Homo sapiens: one gene and its partners. The protein of the gene in region 1 interacts with the protein of each later gene in a biochemical or structural test. Each region holds a gene or a part of one and is shown in the gene's direction. Other genes may lie near its edges.

The links.
Region 2: the proteins of PBK (region 1) and CNKSR1 interact in a test that uses a peptide from one of them, tested with the Homo sapiens proteins (one large-scale study listed by IntAct).
Region 3: the proteins of PBK (region 1) and PDLIM4 interact in a test that uses a peptide from one of them, tested with the Homo sapiens proteins (one large-scale study listed by IntAct).
Region 4: the proteins of PBK (region 1) and CYTIP interact in a test that uses a peptide from one of them, tested with the Homo sapiens proteins (one large-scale study listed by IntAct).
Region 5: the proteins of PBK (region 1) and PDZD8 interact in a test that uses a peptide from one of them, tested with the Homo sapiens proteins (one large-scale study listed by IntAct).
Region 6: the proteins of PBK (region 1) and PARD3 interact in a test that uses a peptide from one of them, tested with the Homo sapiens proteins (one large-scale study listed by IntAct).
Region 7: the proteins of PBK (region 1) and GRIP1 interact in a test that uses a peptide from one of them, tested with the Homo sapiens proteins (one large-scale study listed by IntAct).

The regions. Positions count from the first base shown.
Region 1 is NC_000008.11:27,817,318-27,820,817, reverse strand, and holds part of PBK (lymphokine-activated killer T-cell-originated protein kinase), read left to right. Parts: intron 1-123; coding exon 124-253; intron 254-1,157; exon of another isoform or gene 1,158-3,500. UniProt on the Homo sapiens protein: Phosphorylates MAP kinase p38. Seems to be active only in mitosis. May also play a role in the activation of lymphoid cells.
Region 2 is NC_000001.11:26,183,991-26,187,490, forward strand, and holds part of CNKSR1 (connector enhancer of kinase suppressor of ras 1), read left to right. Parts: intron 1-80; coding exon 81-151; intron 152-223; coding exon 224-297; intron 298-410; coding exon 411-517; intron 518-594; coding exon 595-622; intron 623-1,023; coding exon 1,024-1,196; intron 1,197-3,177; coding exon 3,178-3,251; intron 3,252-3,420; coding exon 3,421-3,492; intron 3,493-3,500. UniProt on the Homo sapiens protein: May function as an adapter protein or regulator of Ras signaling pathways.
Region 3 is NC_000005.10:132,270,825-132,273,954, forward strand, and holds the end of PDLIM4 (PDZ and LIM domain protein 4), read left to right. Parts: intron 1-90; coding exon 91-269; intron 270-478; coding exon 479-642; coding exon of another isoform or gene 643-966; coding exon 967-1,084; intron 1,085-1,200; coding exon 1,201-1,405; 3' UTR 1,406-2,630; downstream 2,631-3,130.
Region 4 is NC_000002.12:157,434,090-157,437,589, reverse strand, and holds part of CYTIP (cytohesin-interacting protein), read left to right. Parts: intron 1-2,842; coding exon 2,843-2,892; intron 2,893-3,165; coding exon 3,166-3,220; intron 3,221-3,500. UniProt on the Homo sapiens protein: By its binding to cytohesin-1 (CYTH1), it modifies activation of ARFs by CYTH1 and its precise function may be to sequester CYTH1 in the cytoplasm.
Region 5 is NC_000010.11:117,276,774-117,279,107, reverse strand, and holds the end of PDZD8 (PDZ domain-containing protein 8), read left to right. Parts: 3' UTR 1-1,834; downstream 1,835-2,334. Other genes in the region: SLC18A2 (synaptic vesicular amine transporter), read right to left, coding at 1,842-1,946. UniProt on the Homo sapiens protein: Molecular tethering protein that connects endoplasmic reticulum and mitochondria membranes. PDZD8-dependent endoplasmic reticulum-mitochondria membrane tethering is essential for endoplasmic reticulum-mitochondria Ca(2+) transfer.
Region 6 is NC_000010.11:34,378,297-34,381,796, reverse strand, and holds part of PARD3 (partitioning defective 3 homolog), read left to right. Parts: intron 1-3,500. UniProt on the Homo sapiens protein: Adapter protein involved in asymmetrical cell division and cell polarization processes. Seems to play a central role in the formation of epithelial tight junctions. Targets the phosphatase PTEN to cell junctions.
Region 7 is NC_000012.12:66,392,577-66,396,076, reverse strand, and holds part of GRIP1 (glutamate receptor-interacting protein 1), read left to right. Parts: intron 1-1,724; coding exon 1,725-1,869; intron 1,870-3,260; coding exon 3,261-3,400; intron 3,401-3,500. UniProt on the Homo sapiens protein: May play a role as a localized scaffold for the assembly of a multiprotein signaling complex and as mediator of the trafficking of its binding partners at specific subcellular location in neurons.

The DNA.
Region 1 (3,500 bases):
ACGCTGGACAAATGTAAACCTAGAGTTTAGGAAGGGAGTTCAAGTTGTTATATTTGGAGGTTATCACATTTTTTTATTAGTTTGTGTTTCTGCACATATGTGTTAAATTTTTTACTATTTTAGTATCTGCACCAAGAAAAGAAACTGCTTCATGGAGACATAAAGTCTTCAAATGTTGTAATTAAAGGCGATTTTGAAACAATTAAAATCTGTGATGTAGGAGTCTCTCTACCACTGGATGAAAATATGACTGGTAAGTTGTACTCTTAAGTTTTAAAATTTTGTTTTTAATACAGTGTTTACATTTTTAAATACGTAAGTCCACATGGATCAAAAATCAAAAACTATTTTTAAAAAGTATATGGTAAAAAGTCCCCTTTTTTTCTCTCTCTCCCAGTCAGCCTGCAGTCTTCTCCCTTGCCACATGTACAGTATAAATTACTGTATTATTATTAGTAGTAGTATTAGTATATATTTTAACTGGAGTTATCTTTGGGAAATATTTCTAACTGGATTGGGATCTTTAAGCAGTAAAGCATCTGGGAATAGAAAGTAAAATTTAGTAAGGTTGTGTAAAGCGGTTTATTTAGCATGAGTAAAGTGACAAGATTTAGGAAACTGGTAGAAGAAACTGGAATGAAGCAGAAAAGAGGGGTGCTAATGAAGGCTGGTCTTTGGCTCTTTGCCCTTTCTTCTCTATTGCATAGCTTCTCAGGGAATTTAAGATATGTTCTTGGTGAGAAACAAGAGCCAGCCTCAAGAGAAAGCCTCTGCTTGCAACATATTATTTAGTAAATAATACTTAAATTTGTCTCTTTATATCAACAGAAGTTAAACAAATGGTTAATAAATGCTGTTTAGAACATATAAATGCCTGAATTTCTAGCTGAAGTAAAAGTTTACAAGTTGAGTTGAAGGCAAGAGTCAGAATGAATGGACAGACTTTATAAATAAATGATGTCTGTAATCATTAATAAAAATAGAACTGTTGTGAAACCTTATGCTAAATAACTTACAAAATGGGAACTTTAGAAAGTAAAAGGATAAATTGTCAAACATAATAAAAATGAGGGTTTTTAAAGTATTTTTCTCAATGCTTAATAGAGCAAACAGACAAATGTAAGGATGTTAAAGATCTGAGTAAATAGTAAGGCAAGTACCTCTGCACCATAATATTTATTAAAATTGACCATATTCTTAGATCACACAAAAAAACTTCGAATTATAAAAAGTATGAATAGTCTAATAGGTGATATTCCTTAACATCAATGCTGTAAATCTAGAAATTTGTAATAAAATAGGAAACAAAAACTCCAAACTTTTTAGGAATTTAAAACACTTCCGAATAATTTTTGGCTAAAAAGAGAAATCAAATTCCATTTATAAAATATTTAGAAAATATAAGAATATAACAAGTCAAACCCTATTTGATATGTTCAAAACTACTCAAAGGAAACATTTTCATTATTTAACTTTTATGAAGTTAAGTTGAATATTCAACTGAAATTGAAAAAAATGACGCCCTAAGAACAGAAAGCAGAAATGAATGAATTTGATAGCCTATAAATTCTACATAATCTTAATGTGATCTATTCTAGAACATGTCAGAATTAATCTGAAGTTCCTCTTTGAGGATACATGTTCAATCAAACATGGCTGGGAAAACTCGATGAAAGGAGGAGGAATCTTCCTGAGCAGATAAAAAGTTTTATAAAGCTACAGTAATTAAAGCGATGATACTCATGCCAAAATAGGCAGAAAAATAGAACATGAGAGTCAGGAAATAGTTCCCAAATAGAGGAATTTGTTGTGTGATAAAGGTGACATTTTTGTATTAGTGAGAAAAGAGGTAGTTTAGTCAGTAAATGATGTTATCTGGACATTTTAGAAAAAAACACAGCTGTTTTCTATCCTTACACTTGAATCCCCATATATTGAAGATTGGGGGAAAAAGTAACAGTAGAAAAAATTGTAGATAAATAGTTCTTTAATGTTGGCTGTGGAGAGGACTTTAAAGAAGACACCAAAGCTAGAAACCATCATTAAAAAGCCATGGGTACCTCCATTTAAAAAAAAAGAATTCTATATCACAGTGGGTTGGAGAGGGGCAGGGAGCTTAAGACATTAGAAACTGAGATAAATGTATAAGATATTTAATATTTCTAATGCATTAAGAGTTATTAGTAATCAATGAGAAACAGATAAAAGCTCTATTATGAAGAGACTGTTGAGAAATGAAAAAAATGGCAATTAGGAAAATATATATGTAATGTTCTTACTAATGTTTTAAAAGCTAAATAACAATGAGATAATCTGCTATCAACACTCATCACACTGTGTAAATTATCTGTTAAACGTTTCTCCATTCCTCCATTAGGCTTGTAAGCTCTAAGAAGGGAACCTTGTATATCTTGTCCACTGAAATATCCTCAACTCTAGAATAGTGCCTGACTTGTAAATATATTATTGAAGGAGTAACAAGATTGCTAGTAAATAAAAAGATTGCTAGTATGAGCAACAATGTAGGTTAACATGTCCTCTCATACACTAAGTAGAACTTGTAACTGCTGTTTTACTGAGGTTAGAATAGGTTTTGCTGTGGTAACACAGACCTCAAAAACTTCAGTGACTTACAACAACCAAGGCTTATTACTCAAGCTGCATGGCCATTAGCACCTTGTTCTGTGTCATTCTCCCTTTAGGACTTATACTGATGGAACAGCCACTATATGGAACATGGCCACCATTATGGGGAGGGTGAAAAAGCATTGGAGTGGTACTGTCCAATACAGTAGTTATGAGCTGCATGTTGCTATTTACATTAATATTAAAACATTGAAATTATTTTCTCAGCCACCCTAGCCACAATTCAAGTGCTCAGAAGCTACATGTGGTTAATGGTTACCACATTGGACAATGCAGATTTAGGAGATTTAATCATCATAGAAAGTTTCATTGAACAATACTGCTCTAGAAAGTCTTGCAGTGATAGTTAAATGCTCAAGCTCAGAAATGACACAAGTCATTTCTTGTGGTAGAACCTTTCAGGTGACAGTTTGGAAAGCTGTATTTAAAATAAGAAAAACCTTTAAAAATGTTTATGCCCTTTGACCCTATAGTTTCATTCTTAAGAACACAGTCCAAAGAAGTAATTGAGTAATTAGGCAGTACAGGCATTTTTTTTATAATAACCTGATATATTATTTCCTGCAAAACTTCATTGCGCAAAAGTTTCAAGATATAACTAGGTTTATAGAAAAAAAAAACAGGGTTAAAACCTATGCAACTTTGAAAACTAAAGCAGTAACAAAAACAGTTAATAATCCTAATAAAAGATACTAACACATTAAATCTGCAAGGGCATAAACATTTTAAAATATTTTTCTTATTTTAAATGCAGATTTCCAAACTGTCGTCTGAAAGGTTCTACCAGAAGAAATGACTTGTGTCATTTCTGAGCCGGAGCAAGACTTTCTAGAGCAGTGCTGTTCAGTGAAACT
Region 2 (3,500 bases), on another chromosome or scaffold:
TGCTGCTCCCCTACCCCTGTTGCCCCCCAACCTGCTTTCAGACCCCTGTCTCCATTGCTTTGTTCCTGGTTGTTCCCCAGACGCCCCCTCAGGTCCTGGACTCCCCGCACCAGAGGAGCCCATCACTGTCTCTGGCCCCACTGTCTCCCAGGTAACAGGCTCTGTCCAGGTGTGTCTTGGTGGGGAGACCGTGGGCTCATCTCATCCCCCTTGCCCTCCCCAGGGCCCCATCTGAAGACGTCTTTGCCTTTGACCTGTCTTCAAACCCCAGTCCCGGACCCAGCCCTGCCTGGACAGGTAGTCTCAAAGCTCCATGGATGCCCCGGACACGGCATCTGGGCACCCAGTTCTGACCCCAAGCCTGGGACTGGGCTCATAGACTTTCCCTCTCTCTCCTCCCTCCCTGACAGACTCTGCCTCCCTTGGCCCTGAGCCCCTGCCCATCCCCCCGGAACCCCCAGCCATACTCCCAGCAGGGGTAGCAGGGACTCCAGGGCTCCCTGAATCCCCTGACAAGGTAAGCTCAGGGGCTTAGCAAGGGGGTGGGTGGGTCTGGACCTAGATCCTTCTCTCACCCTTCTGCTGTCCTTTCAGAGTCCTGTTGGTCGGAAGAAATCAAAAGGTATGAGGTGCGCTGGACTAGGTGGGGGTTCCCCTGTTTGAGGAGCTGTTAAAAATCTTTACATGCTGGGCAAGACCACCCCCATCCTTCCCACACAGCCTCTCCTGGAAACAGCTCTGTTTCTAGGGTCAGACAGAGCTGTGCTCCCAGTCTGGGCCTCTCACCAGACTAGAGGCTAACCTGTTTGCTGTGACTGAGCAAACAGGTTAGCCTCTAGTCTTCAGTTTGCTCATCTCTAAAATAAGAAGGGTCATCCCACCTCAGAGATGACACATGTAGCATTCTGAGCAGAGTGTGGGTTCAGAGATCTCACTTGGGGATGCTTGTGGAAGGCAGGGAGTAGGTTTAGCGGGGGCACCTTGCCAGCCCCTCACTGCCCAGCTTGTGCTGTGCTGCTACAGGCCTGGCGACCCGGCTGAGCCGCCGGCGGGTGTCATGCCGTGAGCTGGGCCGGCCGGACTGTGACGGCTGGCTCCTGTTGCGAAAGGCACCGGGCGGCTTCATGGGCCCGCGCTGGCGCCGCCGCTGGTTTGTGCTCAAGGGACACACGCTCTACTGGTACCGCCAGCCCCAGGTAAGACCCCATACACAAAAACAGGTAGGCAAGTGAGTCACTTCCAGGCCTCGATTCTCATCTCTATTCTATCATCCACTCTTATTCCTGGTCCAAGGCTTTGATGTCCCCATCTGTAAAATGGGGACTTTATTCAGAGAGAAATGAGTTAATATATGTATAAAAGCAGTTTGGAAAAGGTATCATAGGAGGTATAGAGAAAAATCTTTTTTTTTTTTTTTTTGGAGACAAAGTCTCACTCTGTTGCCCAGGCCGGAGTGCAGTGGCATCATCTCGGCTCACTGCAAGCTCTACCTTCCGGGTTCACGCCATTCTCCTGCCTCAGCCTCCCGAGCAGCTGGAACTACAGGCGCCCGCCACAACGCCCAGCATATTTTTTGTGTTTTTAGTAGAGACAGGGTTTCACCGTGTTAGCCAGGATGGTCTCGATCTCCTGACCTCGTGATCCACCTGCCTCGGCCTCCCAAAGTGCTGGGATTACAGGCGTGAGCCACCACACCCGGCCCTGAAAAATCTGGGCAACATAGCAAGATGGAGTCTTGCTATGTTGCCCAGCCTTGTCTCAAACTCCTGGGCTCAAGCGTTCTGCCTGCTTCAGCCCGCCAGAATGCTGGGATTATAGGCGTGAGCCACCACATCTGGCCGAAAAATCACGTCTATTCTGCCCACTTCTCCTTATCCTTCTGATATTCTGTCCATCCGAATGATGGGCCATTCATTTACTCATTTATTCATTCAGGATTCAGGTGCCTACTGTGAACCCAGCTCTAGGCTGGGCACTATGGACACAGAGAAGAATTGGATGATTTTTGCTTCTCCAGAACTTAGAGGCTAGTAGGGGAGAGGGATGAATACACACTCAAGGACAATGTAGGGACCGTGTGCTAAGATAAAGGGAAAGCCCAAGGGATATGTGGGAGCACAGCAGAGGTGTCCAGTCCATCCTGAGGAGTCCAGATGCCCCCTGACAATGCAATACCTGGCAGTTAGTTGCATGGGAAGGGGAAAGAAAACCAGGAAGAGAAAGCAGCATTCAGAAAGCTCAGGGGTGTGAAGCAGTTTGGTTTGTGTCTACTGAAGGAACAAATGCATGAGCAAGCTCTTCTTGTTTGGTTTTTTGGTTTTTGTTTTTGAGACAGAGTCTTGCTTTGTCACCCAGGCTGGAGGGCAGTGGCATGATCTCAGCTCACTACAGCCTCAGCCTCCCAGGTTCAAGCGATCCTCCTGCCTCAGCCTCCTGAGTAGCTGGGACTACAGGCACATGCCACCATGCCTAGCTAAGTTTTTTGTTTGTTTTGTTTTGTTTGAGACGCAGTCTCGCTCTGTTGCCCAGGCTGGAGTGCAGTGGCGCAATCGCAGCTCATGGCAACCTTTTCCTCCCAGGTTCGAGCAATTCTCCTACTTCAGCCTCCCGAGTAGCTGGGATTACAGGCACCTGCCACCATGCCTGGCTAATTTTTTGTATTTTTAGTAGAGATGGGGTTTCACCATGTTGGCCAGGCTGGTCTCGAACTCCTGACCTCATGATCTGCCCGCCTCAGCCTCCCAAAGTGCTGGGATTACAGGTGTGAGCCACCACACCCGACCTAAGTTTTTAATTTTTTGTAGAAATGGGCTTTTTTCCCAGTCTGGTCTCAAACTCCTAGGCTCAAATGGTCCTCCTGCCTTGGCCTCCCAAAGTGCTGGGATTACAGGCATGAGCCACCATGCCCGGCCTTCAGGCTCCTCTTTTTTTTTTTTTTGGCTGTTTCTCTGATATCTTTGGCTCCCCTTTCCTGGCTTAGAGGCATCCTTTGGCCACATCTCCTACCCTGACCCCAGATTCCAGCCCTGAGCTCCAGAAACAGAGAGACTTGTTAGAGAGCCCAGGAGATGCCTTCTCCTCTCCACAACTCTCAGGAGCCCGAGGGGTAACTAGGAGCTGACTGGGCCTTGAGGGTATTGGGGTTCCAACCTGACCCTCATGCTGTGATCCCCCCAGGATGAGAAGGCTGAGGGCCTCATCAATGTCTCCAACTATAGTCTGGAAAGTGGACATGATCAGAAGAAGAAATAGTTAAGTCTTGGGGTGTGATGGGCTGGGGGATGGAGACAGAAAGGGAGAGGAAGGGTGATGGGGTAGCAGTGGGAGGTGTGGCAAGTGGCTGGGGCGCCCAGAATCCAGCCTCTCTGGGCTGTGGGTGGGCACGCCCAGGCTGAGTGATGCTCCTCCACTACCTGGCAGTGTGTTTCAGCTCACCCATGATGTGTACAAACCCTTCATCTTCGCTGCTGATACCCTGACAGATCTGAGCATGTGAGTGC
Region 3 (3,130 bases), on another chromosome or scaffold:
CTGGCACAGCACAGCAGGGTGGGGGTGGGGTGAACAAGGAATGGCTGGAGGCCAGAGGGTCTCCCAGTGCCTTAGGCCTCTCTCTAATAGGACGGCAGCCCAACAACCAGCAGGCGGCCCTCAGGCACCGGGACTGGGCCAGAAGATGGCAGACCAAGCCTGGGATCTCCATATGGACAACCCCCTCGCTTTCCAGTCCCTCACAATGGCAGCAGCGAGGCCACCCTGCCAGCCCAGATGAGCACCCTGCATGTGTCTCCACCCCCCAGGTAGCACAGAGATGCCTTCGGTGCCATGCCCAGAACCCATCTTAACCCTTGATCCCTCAAATCTCACCCAGTCCCACTCTGACCCCTGACACTTGATCCTTGGGTCTTAGCTGGTTGCATTCTGACTCATAAGCCTTACCAGACCCCAAGTCCACAGGGTGAAGGCTGGAACTGCATCCCTTCCTCCTCTATTTCTTTCTCCCTCCCAGCGCTGACCCAGCCAGAGGCCTCCCGCGGAGCCGGGACTGCAGAGTCGACCTGGGCTCCGAGGTGTACAGGATGCTGCGGGAGCCAGCCGAGCCCGTGGCCGCGGAGCCCAAGCAGTCAGGCTCCTTCCGCTACTTGCAGGGCATGCTAGAGGCCGGCGAGGGCGGTAAGACGCCTGCCACCTGTCCCCATCTGCCTTCCCACTCCCTGCAGTGCCCAGGTTGCCCCCTAGCGACCCCACGTCCCGCCTCGCAGTCACCTGCCCTCTTCGGTCTCTGCGGCCCGGTCCCACGCCCTTGCTACAACCTTGCTACGCCCTGGCTTCCCGATTCCCTCTCCACCCCCTGTCGCTGCCCCTCACCCCACGCCCGCCAAACCCGTTCCCCAGTCTCGGGTGCCGATGGCCCGTCTGGCGCCCAACCAAACACCCCGCAGAAATGGAGTTCTGACCTCCTCACCCCGTTCATGCCACCTACGCTCCGGGTTTCAGGGGATTGGCCCGGGCCTGGCGGCCCCCGGAACCTCAAGCCCACGGCCAGCAAGCTGGGCGCTCCGCTGAGCGGCCTGCAGGGGCTGCCCGAGTGCACGCGCTGCGGCCACGGCATCGTGTGAGTAACCGCCCCCGCTGCCCCTCCCGGACCCTAGCCTTCCAGGGCCCTGGATGCGGGCGCAGTCGTGAACCCATCAGTCACTCGACGCTGTCCTGTCTCGTTCCCCCCATCAGGGGCACCATCGTCAAGGCACGGGACAAGCTCTACCATCCCGAGTGCTTCATGTGCAGTGACTGCGGCCTGAACCTCAAGCAGCGTGGTTACTTCTTTCTGGACGAGCGGCTCTACTGTGAGAGCCACGCCAAGGCGCGCGTGAAGCCGCCCGAGGGCTACGACGTGGTGGCGGTGTACCCCAATGCCAAGGTGGAACTCGTCTGAGCTGGGACCCTGCTCCCACGCCTGCTTCTTAAGGTCCCTGCTCGGCCGGTGTAAATATGTTTCACCCTGTCCCTCTAATAAAGCTCCTCTGCTCCACCTTGAACCTGTCACCTGGCCTGCCACCCTCCTGCGCAGGCCATGCATGGCTCCCGAGTACAGTAGTATCTGCTTAGGTGCCAGGCATGTCCTAGGCTCTGGGTGCAGTAGTGAGCAGGACGGGTACCATGCTGCCCTGAAGGGGGCCACAGCCTGGGTGGAAGGCAGACCTGAATCACAACGGGCCAGCTCTAGTAATACGAAGGTGAGGTCTGGGATGCTGCGTGCGGCGCGACGACAGGAGGTATGACCTGGGTGGGGTCAGGGAAAGTCTTAGCTGAGAACTAAGAGATGAGGGAGGCACAAACTCTGCACGGGGGAACTGTGTGTGCAAAGGTGAGCTGGGGGCGAGAAAGGCCTCTGTGGCCGTCATCGGCACTAGCGGGTTGGGGGTGGTGGTGGGGTGCTGGCAGCCTCAGGAGCGATCGCTCCCCTGGAGAGGGTGATTGAGTGTGGAGATCACCGGGGCCGCCGCGGGCCGTCTGCACTTCTGTTCCAGGTTTTTCTGGCATTTTCTGTTCCAGGTTTCTTCCACCCACGAGCACTTTATTCTCCTCCGAGACCCCCTTTTCTTCCCCTTCCTCTCTCCCCCACCAGGGGGCGCGCTTAAATTTCCAGACAGAGACCAGAAGGAAGGTTTAGAAAGAAAAGAACACTTGCCCAGGGCAGCTTTGCCCTCCAAGAGGCTCCCTCCTGTCTCTAAGTCAATTCCACCCCTCCTCGAAGTCCCGGCTTCCACCCCTCTCCTCAGAGTCCCGGCGTTTACCTCGTGGTGTGTTTGCCTTGGGCCTTTCATGCCCCGGCTGCACACATCGTCTGTGAATTGTGGCTGTTCACTCCCGAGGATGTGTCCTAGACTCCGGGTCGCGTGGATCTACCCTCTAGTTTACTTGCTCGGGAGAAGAAACTGACTCGTTTTATTTAGTGCCTATTTAGCGAGCCCAGAGTAACGTACATTTGTGCTGTTTTCAATTTTGTGCTATCGCAAATCACAAAAAAACTGTTATCAATTCACATTCATCATCAGCACGAGACCCATTTCCTTGTGCTCCTGCCAGCTCAGGATATTATGTTTCTTTTTTCATTTTTGCCAGTCTGTTAAGTAAAATGTCATATGCGTTTGTTTTAATTTGCATTTCTCTGATTACCAGTGATGAACATTCAGTTTTTGAGCATTTATGGTGTGTTTGCTGGGTGCCTAGCACTAAGGGAACAGAGTGGTCCTCACTCTCAAAAGAGCAGTTCTTGTGTAAGTTACCCCAAACCCTTCATGATTTTTTTCCAAGGCTTATTTAACTTCTTCTTAATGATTGGTAGGAACTTTTCCTAATTTTGTACGAATCTTTGTTACTGGATTCTGGTCATCTGATCTATTTCCCTGTTAATGTATAATTACTACTGTGTTGGAGTTTAATAGCCAATCTCTCCTCCTTGTTGGTCATTTACAAACCTGTCAAAGCTATTCCTCTACATTTCCAGTTGTCAGAAGTTGAGACTGCATGCCTCAGGCTCTGGAAAAGCAAACCTCTGAACTGTGACCAGGTTGCCCTGAATCTAGGGACTCACTTGGGAAGAACTGGCATTAGTCTTTTCCTCCAGAGAGGACTGTGATCTGCACTTCCTGTGCAT
Region 4 (3,500 bases), on another chromosome or scaffold:
TATCTGGGATTACAGGCACCTGCCATCATGCCTGGCTAATTTTTGTATTTTTGTAGAGACGGGGTTTTACCATGTTGGCCAGGCTGATCTTGAACTCCTGAGCTCAGTTGATCCACCCTCCTTGGCCTCCCAAAGTGCTGGGATTACAGGTGTGAGCCACCATGCCCAGTCTTGTATAGCTTCCTTTGAGGAACGTCTGTTCAGATCATTTGCCCATTTTTAAATTTTTTTTTTTCTGTTGAGGTATTTTAGTTCATTATATATTCTGGATATATAAATGAGTAGTTTGCAAATATTTCCTTCCATTCCACAGGTAGTCTTTTCACTCTGTTAATTGTTTGCTGTGCAGAATCTTTTTAGTTTAATATAACCCCATTAGTTTATTTTTGCTTTTGTTGCCTGTTTTTTGAAGGTCTTATTCATAAAATTTTTTCCCAATCCAATATGCTAAAGCCTTTCCCCTATGTTTTATTCCAGTAGTTTTATTGTCTCAGGTTTTACATGAAGGTTTTGATCCATTTACTTATTTTCAGTTGATTTCTGTATAGAGTGAGAGGTATGGTCTAGTTTCTTTCTTCTGCATATGGATATACAGTTGTCTGTTTTCTTTCATTTTTAAATCTTGCTACATATTTAAGATTTTTAAATTTTACTTTATGTATTTTAGTGATTATCCTTGAGTTTTTCCTATGATATTGAATTTAATAAAGGACAATGTTGAAGACTATCTTTACATATTTCTCCTGAACGTGAATATTTAATGTGGCTCTTCAACCATCTCAGTTGCTTCCATTTTCGTTTAGTAGTTTATTTATTTTTATCTATTTCTCCATTTTTAAGTTTCCATTCTATTCCAGGCCCTGTGTTGGGCATTGGGGCAGAAAGTAAAACAAATAACATTCCCCAAGAGGTCCAAATCACACAGATGATTATGTACAGATGTGAAGTATTTGATCCAGTATGCATTTCATATAAATATATACATATATGTATACATATATATATAGCTCTCTCTATATGGATATATGAATAATATGATGAATACTGATAGCAAGAGTAATACCTTAAAAATATAAGCCCTTATTTATAGAGGTATAAGAAACTTTTATAAAAAGAATAAAAAAGCCCTAGTTATCATTACGTAATTTGGCTTAAGGGCGGAAAACAAGCAGCTGAAGATAATAAAAATAGATTAAGAAAATATGAGTACAATATAAGGGAGAGACTGAGAATGCTTGGAAATATCAAGTTTGTGGCTCTCTTCTGCAAGGAAGCCCACTAACATAGATGAATAGTCCCTATCCTTGGTAACGGTACATACGAGGTACAAAATCAGGTTACAACAAACCATACCAATCCTTGTAGGCATTCCACAGTTAGTGCTTATAAATTGAAAAGAGATACTTTTTAGCAAGACTAGAGAATCTTTTTGGGTCTGAGCAATTTATTTCAGTCTCCATTGCGATATAAGTGAGTTGAAGCCCAGAACTAACAAAAGAGGAAAATATAATTAATTTACAGCAAATTGGTAAGAAGAGACCACCTCTCCATTACGTTAAGTTTATGGACTGGTGGCTGAATTCTTAACACTGGTCCATTCCAGGAAATTTGTGAAAATGCTGGCATTTGGTACCTGGTAATTCAAAATTCCTACAGTGATGTAGGCTTCACTCCTAATGAATGTCTTAATAAGCATTTCATTTGTGTAACTTGTCACATAAGCATTAATATCTCCTACATATTTTCCCCCTTCTAGTTTTCATCCTTTACTTATTTTATTTTGCTTTGTCTGGACTGACTATGCATTGATCTCTTGATATTTTATGTGTTCATTTATATATGACAACCATTTCAGGTTGACAATTAAAAACCATGGGTTAGCTAGTAGCTTATGTTTTGGGCCCTTGAAGCAACATTTGAGAATAGGGCTAATAAACATTTCCTGAACAAAGAAACAAACCGACCAAAAAAACACAAAAACCTGCTGCAATTTTCCTAAAAAATAAGTTGTCACCTTTTGTTGATGCTGCTTCTGTTTACAGTGGTAGAATGTGTCCTGAAAGCTTATGTTTATATGATCTTTTCCAAAAGTGCAGAGGAATGAAGGTGATATTATTTATACCATTGATACTATTCTGAGGTTTCTTTCCTTTCTTGGCTGGAAATTTCACGTTAGTCTTCCAAAACTATTACAAAAATAAATCATAAGCAGAAATGAGGTTTTGAGTTCCTGGTTTTACCTGAATTGTGTGTGTGAGTTGGTTGTTTAGAGATTATTTTATCCTACTAAAAACAGTAACGTATTGAATTATTATAGTAAACACTGTCATTTCATCATCATCTCCAAAAACTATAAAGTATTTGGGTTTCATATGCCATTCTAAGTATGCTATTTTTCTTTGGATTTCAGTGTGATTACAAATTGCTATGGTTAATCTTTCAGAGGCTGTTTTAAATACAGACCAGAGAGGAAGTTCTCTTTGGAAGCTTTGGAGTTTTGCCACATTATTTTAACTCTTTTGCCACATTGTATTACTATCTAAACCTCTTTCAATCTTTTAACTGGAATGCCTAGAATCCTGTCTCCCTACTCTCCTCTGCTATCACTAGAGAATGTAGAGAATGGAAATGGCTGCCTTTATGCAACAATTTCCCAGGAGCTGGGCCAAAGAAGGTGGTAAAGAACAGGTTGTGTGTGTGTGTGTGTGTGTGTGTGTGTGTGTGTGTGTGTGTGTGTGTGAGAGAGAGAGAGAGAGAGAGAGAGAGAGAGAGAGAGATTTAGAACATTTTACAGTGTATCTTGAAGACCCTGGGATAACTATATGTCTTTTGTGTTTTTCAGCTTGCTTTGACCAGATCAAGTTCTTTAAGTGACTTTTCCTGGTCTCAAAGGTAAAGAGATTGAATTATTTTTTGTCTCTCCCAAAATATTTAGGAACATAGCTCTCCAGACTGTTTTTTCCTCTCTCTTCCTCTCTCTCTCTCTCTCTCTCTACGCACACACACAGACGCACACACACAGACACACACACAGAATCTTACATACTACAATTTACATAAATGTCAGTTATTTTTAATTGTGACAGTTATTTTTAATGATAGATCTGTGCCAAATGTGATACTTTAATTTTCATGCAGTTTCTTTTTTAAACATTTTTATTACAGAAAGCTTGTTACTGTGGAGAAGCAGGATAATGAAACATTTGGATTTGAAATTCAGGTGGGCAATTTTCACATTTTCTAGACTTCCAAGGAAGAAAGTGGCACCGGTAGTGTCATGTTATGTGCAAAGAAAAAATGAAGTTAGGATTAGAGAATGATGGAGCCTATGACTTTTATTCAGTGTGTGGCTGTTTGGGGGTAGTTTTTCAGTGTGTTGAGTACTATTAAGGAAAGAAAACATTGAAGATGATAACAAAACCTCTGCGATATGCTCAGCAGTTTGTGCTTAGTTGCTTCAGTCTTCCCTTAAGTCCCAGACTGATCAGCTAGGTTGGTAT
Region 5 (2,334 bases), on another chromosome or scaffold:
ATCTTATCCCGAGGGACCAACAGCAGGCATACCTTTGCCAGGCCTTCTTGCAGAAAGACACAGAGCCGTAAAGGCAAAAATAAAATTGCAATAAAGTATATGGTATTGGGGGCAGGGAGAACCAGAAACCCTCAAAGAGAACCAATTTGTAGCACGTTCTTTTTTAAGGCTCTACCCCTGTAGAAGTAAGAAACTAGCCTGCCTTTTTAGCCATATGAGAGTTTCCTCCAGAGCCATCTTCCAAAGTGGCAGACTTGGCCAAGTTGCCCAATGCCAAATAAGTGAGTTGGAAGTTCGTTTGCTTCAAACACACTGCACTTAGAAACCAGACTTGAAATAATCGAAGCCCCACAGAAAAGCTTCATGAAACGAAGTGTTACTTTCCTAGAGAATAAGAAAGTCACAAGATTGAGGAGTCTGTTCTAAAGTTCTTTGCTCCTTGATGTCGAAGTTAACACAAACACAATCTTAGCTTAACGAAACTAAGTAATTTTTGTTTATGATTATAGAACTGCAGGATTCACAAGTAGTATTAGAGACATTCCACACTGCACACTCCAGTCATATCTCTTAACAAAATGACATAAATTGACAATGTTCACTAACAGTATTTGCTGTTACACTGAAAAGGCACATCAATGTTGTCATGCTTAGAAAAATACACAACACTGCACACTGGATGATATAGTTAGCACATACATTTTTAGATGTTCCATTTTTCTTTTCTGCCTGATCACTATTATTTTTACTTCTTAATATATGATTCAAGACATAATTTCATTCTTCATTTTCATTTAAAATTTGTCTTCACATTGATGTGAACAACTTTCAGGAGTCTAAAAAATAGTAGTTTCAGACAACCTAAAATAAATATATTCCTAGAAAACACTTGGATGACCTGCAAACAGATCAAAGATATAGTCAGATATTAAAGTCAGAGCAGCTGTTTTCAGCTTCTTGTTTCCTTTTCTAAAACTTGAAGTAGATGGCGATTAACCTTATCATGTTTAAACAACCTTGACAGTATAAGGTACATGTACCCTCAATTTTCTTCATCCAGTAAGACAAGTATGCATCTTAAAGGGAAAGCTTTTAGTTCATAACAATATGTTTGGTTGCTTTTCTCTGCTTTCGGAACATTTACTGTTTTTCCTTTATTGGCTTTAGTGTTTGCTGCCAACCAGATAACATGTTAACATATAATTTACAACTCTCTCTAGGTAGGTGATTACATAGAAAACTAATGCCAGCTAAGATTTATGGATTCAAAAGATAACTGACACAAGTTCTTGTCCTCTACACTTGAGAGAACTAGCTGTTTAACGCATAAATATATTGATAGTAACTACAAGTTAAATAACATTCAGTGTCACTATATAACATGCTGTCTTACTTGATTCTGTTTTTCAGACTTCATTCTAGTTTCTCTTTGTTGGAAGAGTCTCAGAGATAATGTGTGCTTTAATTTTAAACACTCATTACCAATATGATTTTTGCCCAAATGTTTGTTAATGTAAGTTAAAAAATTATATTTGGTTTGGATTCAAATATTTATAGATTTACACAATACCTATTTCATCAAAATATATTGTATGATATTTAATAAAATTAAATACATAAAATAAAGTTTCAACACTATTTATACAAACCCCTAGAAAAGCTTCTTTTTCTTTATAAGGCTGTTGGCAATCGACCATAACCATGGAAAGGAAATAATAACCTTTGGTTTTACTCTTTCACCAGGGATGGATGGTATGACTAAGACAGTTCTGGATGAGTTGTGTCACTGGAAACACTGTTTTATACAATTAAACACTTTGATGATTTTTGAGGATCTCATCTCAGTCACTTTCAGATTCTTCATCTTCACCTATCGGATATGACTGGATATTATTCTGAGTGTACATTTTTGTTTTAATAGGGCAGTTGTGATCCATGAGAATAGCCTAAAAGAGAGCAAAGTGCAAGTATATTAACTTCTTGTTTCATAAAGATAAGATGGTTTTAACCTACTGTTTTTAAGGATTATTAGTTTGAAAACTATGTAGTATTACTTGCTATTAACCAGTCATTTGGAGCAATCGCCAGACGCCTGACCTAAAAGACCTGTAGTTCTACACTCTAAAAATTCCAGGCAATTGGAGACAGAAGTGGTCTCTGCAGTATTTTCATTATACCTGTCAGGGGCCATAAGTCCACTCTGGGAACTTATACTCTATGAAGCAAGGGACAGGCAGGTTAGGTTTGTTATACTTAGAATCTTGGAATTGGGGTATGGGGATCCTGGAGGTCACCCAGTCCAACTTCTGTTTACAGACGTCATTGTAGCAACAC
Region 6 (3,500 bases), on another chromosome or scaffold:
CCATGCCCATCTCATTTACAAATTTTTTGTTGTGTTGGAGTCTTGCCATGTTGCCCAGGTTGATCTGGAACTCCTGGCCTCAAGTAGTCCTTCTACCTCGGCTTCCCAAAGTGCTGGGATTATGGAAGTGAGCCACCATGTCCAGGCCTGCTTCTCTTTCTTATGGTGATGTGGAAGTCATGATGTCGATTGCCGATTCTTCATACATCTTCCATCCATTATGTATTTTAGTACCCTTCCTGTATACAGTGGATCTCTGTATAGAGAGCATGTTCTTGCAGTTTGCCTCCTTCAAAGTTGAGTGCAAACTATTGGACTTGACTTTATGATTTTCACCCAATGTTTCGTCCAGGCACCAAGATACACTTTTACTGTTCCTGATCCATTTTAGCTGAGCATTTTGATATATTTTTAAATCATGTCTTTCAAAATGGTATTATTATAAAGAATATTTTTTTTTATAGGCTCAACCATCAACTCTTATAGTTGGATGGAAATGATTCCAAGAGAGGTTCATTATTTCCTCAGGTCATGTGGCTGTTGGCCACAGATTCTTACTAGTATGTTTTCCATATCCGGATATTCAGACCATTCTTCTTTACATTTGGGGTAGCATTTACAAGGTTGTAAACTCTGAGACTGCTGTTTCCTTTCTAACTCATATTCTTTCAGTGAACTTTATGTGAACCTCAAGTTTCTTATTTCTGGTTACTGGTTTTTAAGCTCTAAATACTTGGTTGACATGATCAGGAGTTGACAGCTTGCCTCGTTGCAAACACAGAGTCATATCAACAGAAACCCCTTTAGCTCTGTCAATTCCTAAATGAGAGAAATATCACATCCTCTTTCCTCCTTTTGCTCTACTTAAATGACAGGCCCTTGTTTTTAACCAAAAACATATCAAGAACTACAAATAGAATCGTATAAAAAATAAAATTCTGCTTGATATCTCTAAACAAAGGTACAGTATTTTGCTTCACCATTGTCATAAAGATACTGGTTCATAAATATCTTTTCCTTTTTACACTGATACAGCAATATTCATTTAGTTAATTATGGTTTTTCAAAAATTAGGATATTTGACAAATCATGATATAACATGAACTTTTTAAATGAGGTGATTTGCCATTAAAAGTACCATTGTTTTGCTAATGAAAGAATGAGAAATACAAAGGAAATCTGAAGTGAGAAGATAAAGGTAAAGTATTAAACAGAATACAGATTCTCCAAAAAAAGGAAAATAATGAGTATATCTAATTTTTATGTTATAGTAAGTCTGAAGTGATAAATAAATCAAATTGATACATTTTACTTACAAAACTGGTACCATTGTTTTGAATACAGATATTATTTTAATAGCATTTAATGAAAAATATGATTGCATTTACACAAGCTAATTTAGAAAGACTATGCTTAATCACTGAAAGGAGAAACAATGGTTTTAAGTGTTTTTCAGACCTTGAGTAATCTTAATGATATAGAGTCCCATAGATCTATCTTGATTTTAATTTACCAACTGTGAGAATGTATGACAAAAAGCACATGCTGCTTGTGCATGCTGCCAATACTTACAAATATTTTATATAAAAATTATGTTTACTATAAATGTGGGGAAGAATGCTGATTATCTTTGATTAGGACTAAATGCATATATTTTAATAATAATGAATGTAGGAGAATTGAACAGGCTTTCCTTGTAGCTAGCAGATTTTTTTCTTACAAGTTATTACATTTATTAGTGAAGTACATTAAAAACATAGGGTGTGTCAGTGTTAAACTTCAGATTCAGTTCAAAGTGAGCTAATGTGCTTTGAGTGGCAGCAGTTCTTCAAAAACTGGAATCAACTCTTAGTACAAAAAAAGATGTCAGTATAATTATTCTTTGGCCTAATTTTGGAGCTATGTTATATAACATGACAACAGAATAGCCTCAGTGTACTTGCTTCCATAATTATGATTTCTTAATATTTATTGCCATTTTGGTATTCTCAAATACCCAGCTCTTTTGTAGAAATTAGCTTTTTAATAAAGTCAGAGGAGAAGGTCAGTAATCTGTTTCAGTCAGTGCAGAATGTTTTGTTGGCTTTGTTAAATGAAAATTGATATCTACTTATCTTTCCTTGAAAGGTCATTGCCTGAACTTTTAGCTTACAGATTTAGGGGTTGTTGCTGATATTTTAATAGTATTGAGGTTCCTACAACAGTCAGCATTCATAGTTCAAAAAAGTTAGTATTGCAAAAGGAGAGTAATTAAGAATTCTTTCTTAATAAATGTTATTGCAAGTCATTAGAGTTTCATGAAAGCAGAGACATATGGAAAAATCTCCCCAGAGCAATAACAAACATTTCATATAGACAGTATGCCATTCAGGTGTTCAGCATGGAAGACATCAGAAATATTAATAGTCCAAGCACCCTAAAGTGACTTCAGACTAAAGTAAATGAATGCTTTGTTTGATGTTGAGAATAACTATGGTAGGTTTTGCTACAGGAATAACTATGGAGTGTTTTCTTTATTTCTCCTTTAATGTTTCTTTAATCTACATTTTTATTCACCCTTTTTTGTTCACTTATATTTTATACTTTTCATTACAGTTTTATACTGAGTGATGTATCAGATTAATGTGCTCTTTTCTAGATTTTTCACCTTTACAGATCTCTTTATTCTTCCCATAATGAGCAAGCATTTGCCTTAACAATATTTTAACTGAAATGGAAACTAATATCTTAAGAAGTAACTTTTTAAAAAAGCTTAGGTAGAAATCATTATTGTAAAAATGTTGTGATTCATTACAAATGTATCATTATCTCCCCAGTTTTTCCTGGGCACGTGTTGGCTTCTTGCGTCTTGATTCTAGTGACATATAAACACTTTTCTGCTTTGTATTGAGCATGTAAGACTGTCTGTCAAGAAAGCTGCCAAAGAAATGAGAATTTAAATTCTGTGAATCATCAGAGTAATTTATAAATGCATCATTAATTTAGTACCTTTAAGCATAATATGATCCCCAGATTTGGTAGCCATGATCTGAGATGGAGTCTTCACTGAGTAATTTGCCTTGTTTGGGAGTGGGGGGTGGTGAAGGAAATATACATGGTAAGATTTAGGTGAATTAGAAGTGAACTAGGCAAAGATAATTTGGTTTATGGTTTATCCTCTTAGTAAACTGCTTTGAATAATTATGATTTTGGGAGGTTCCATTACCTCTATCTAGAGATACCTCTCATTTCACTGTTCTTTTCCATCTCCCTGGACATTTTTGTTTCCCTTGCTCATACCTCCTACCCTTAAAATTTGGATGTCATTATTGCACAATAATACTTGAGTTTTGAGGTACTGTGGGTCTTAACAGAAGTTTTTTTCTTTCTTCATGTAGTGAATTTCCTATTCAAAGATTTACATTGATTTAAAAACTTTTAGCAGTCATATTTACATATTAACTTTCATCTGTCTTTGAGAAGATTGCTGTTTCTTCTTAGATTAATAACTGTTGATATGT
Region 7 (3,500 bases), on another chromosome or scaffold:
ATCCAGGATATTGTTGATGATGAGGGCTGCAAAGTACATGTAATCTATCCAATAGTACTCTGTTCATTTAGGTCAAAGCCAGCTCTGAAAGGTGACAAAATATCGTACTGTAGGAAAATTTAGACTTTTGACCTCTGCTGATTATTTGGTTACCCTCTATCTTGATGTTTCTCTCTGGAGCCCTTAGCAGATCATCACCAGCCTATTGGCCACAACTTCAGCATCAGCCCAGAAGAAACTTGTGAACCAGCAAACAGAGCTGTTTTAGGCTTGATATGGGAGCTTCTCAGCTGCTAATGTAAATTTGAGCCCAATGTTGAAGATTTTGTGCCCTAAAATGTTGACTTAAGCATTGCAGTGTGTGGTGGATGGTCTTTAGTTCTGAATGTGTGGAGTAAATACGTTGAGTAGAGCACTCAGAAAGTGGAGGTAATGGCTGCATTCAAAACTCCCAATCTATGGCCAGAAGTGAAGTAAGTGCTGGCGAGAGAGGACACATTGCTTCCCAAATGACTTGATAGACCTTTCATTTTATATTCATCATAATTCTTCACTGCAAACACAAATAATTGAATTGTTAACTCAAGCTTTGGTTTTCCTCCTTATTTTAGGATTTCATATCGTAAACGAACAGCTGCTCACTGCAAAAATGTGGCCATGTTAATGCTTCACTAGGATGTAGTCTGACTGTAAAAGCTGACTATTTTGCTAAAGTAGCCACTGAACCATTTCATTTTATCCTTAGTTGCAGAAATGAAACAGTTCCTTAACCATTCACAGCTCCCAGGCCCAAGGAATAAAACAAGAAGTGCCCAAGAACTTTAAGCATGTCAGAAGCAAATAAAACCTTTGAATTCTGAGACTTCTTATTTGCAACTCTGACACCATCACAATACCCATCACGTTGAAGGCGGCCCATGATATCTTTCTGGCCAGTGCTTTAGGCAGAGCACATTCACAAGTGTCTTCAACTATAATAATGTTGAATAGCCAAAATTAGTTTATGACAGTGTGGCAGGCTGGTCTATGCTGTTGAAACATAGCTTACAACAGCTGTTACTCCATTGAAAGAGGAGAGATGATCATTCAAACCTCCACTTTAATATCCGTAATTCACTGATAGGACTCACATTAGAAGACAGTCAGTGGAATGATATCTAAGAGATTCTAGATTTCTTGCTGTTGTCTTCAAGTTTACTTATCTAAGTTCCACTTAACCATATATATGTTATTTGTTCCAACCCTTCGCAAAATCCACTTTTCTATATCAAAAGTTAGCATGCATGTAAAGCTTAAAACGGAAACAGCGTGACCCAATGTCTGTCTTCTTTGTTACTGAGTGACTCTCTCCTCTCATATTATAATGCCTCCTCAGCCATATGTTTATTTCACAGATATTTACTGCATACTTACTAAATGCTAGGTAAGCACTGTCCTAGACATGGACACAGTTGAAAGGTCCTGCAGCCCCAGCTGGGCGGATCTCACACATTTAAAACATAAGTCATTAGGCAGTGTTCCTCTCCCCTGGCACTGACAATGATTATATCCCTGTATTTGAATGTAAGATCCTACTAAGGAAATGCTACTTCCCAAAATAATTATTTTCTGTGACATGATACTTTGACGAGGATGTTTTGAATTCTTTTATGTATGAATCTATGCATCTTACTCTTTTGCTTTTTCCAAAGAAATCAATTATGATTCCTTGGCATTTATTACAGATGAGCAAGAAAGTTCCGGAGCAATTATTTACACCGTGGAGCTTAAACGCTACGGGGGGCCCCTTGGCATCACAATTTCAGGAACTGAAGAGCCGTTTGATCCTATAATCATTTCAAGCCTCACTAAAGGGGGATTAGCTGAAAGGTAAAATTTGAAGTAACTGTTATAATTACCTGTGTCTGAGACGGGCTTCCTTCCTCACAACCACATAAAAACATGCTCCTCTCTCTGTGGTTATCTGTTGGCTTTTAAAAATCTGCACAAAGGATTGATCTTAGAGCCTGAGAACTCTCAGGCAGAGTTCCGACTTGACTCTGAGGGGCATCTTACAGGCAGTAAAAGACGTCTTGGGCTTAGCATTGATACTACTCTCTGAAATGTATAAGCTGACCACAATTGACTGAAGGCGGATTTGTATTGTGTCCATTTTGAGAGGAGGAAACTAAAGTTCAGGGAGGTTGAACAGCTTGTCCAATTTCATTCAGCAAACACTTGCTGAGCCTCTGTTACCTGACAGGTGCCACACTTAGCTGCTGTGTTTTCAGAAAAGGATGATACAGACATCATCTTCAAGGATTATGGGAAACAAAGTGTATAACCCATTTTAATAATGTCTTAAAAGCTGGAATGTCCATTTTTTCCTTTGGCAATGATGTACACACACACCCACTCCCCACCCTCCGCTAAACTGCATTTCTTTCTGAGATGTGTTGTTGGACATATAACAAACCCTATAAGCAAATCTGCCCTCCAGTAACCTAGCTCAGGAATACACAAATGCATTGTTCCTGCTAACAGTTGAAAACAGTGGCTAGCAAAATAGAGACACAGCATTGCAAAATGTTGGAGCTGCAGTGTACCTTAGAAATTAGCTCATACAGGCCAGGTGCGGTGGCTCACACCTGTAATCCCAGAACTTTGGGAGGCCGAGGTAGATGGATCACGAGGTCAGTTCAAGACCAGCCTGGCCAATGGGGAAACCTCATCTCTACTAAAAATAGAAAAATTAGCTGGGGATGGTGGTGCTTGCCTGTAATCCCAGCTACTTGGGAGGCTGAGGCTGGAGAATTGCTTGAACCCGGGATGCGGAGGTTGCAGTGAGCCAAGATCGTGCCACTGGACTCCAGCCTGGGTGACACAGTGAGGCTCTGTCTCAAAAAAAAAAAAAAAAAAAAAAAAAAATCTGTAGAAAGAAAGGATGCTCCATGCTATCCACTACATTTGTCATTCAACATTGTTCATTTTCTTGGGATTTTTAGGGTGCTTAACCAATGACTCAGCTTTCTTGGAATTAAAAAACACAGTTCATTTTAATAACTAATTAAAACAATTTTTAAAATTTTATTGGAAACTAAAAAGTAATCCACAACAGATGCAGTTATCTTATAACATTGCCCAGGAGAAAGCAAGAAGGGACTTCTGGAGATCCTTACCAAGTCTTTATTATGATGAATGTATAAGGTATGTCAGGGAATTTATATTCAGTACCATACAGGGATTATTTCTACCTCTCCTATTACTATTTGGCTTTTCAGAACTGGCGCAATCCACATAGGAGACCGAATCCTAGCCATCAATAGCAGCAGCTTGAAAGGGAAGCCTCTGAGTGAAGCCATCCATTTGTTACAGATGGCAGGAGAGACTGTCACCTTGAAAATTAAGAAACAGACAGATGGTGAGTAGTGAATTGAAAGCCACAATTAAGGATTTCCAGTGCATTTTCTTCCTTGAAAGAATGTGCTAGTGTCTGTGTGTAATTCTAGGGAAACAAATCT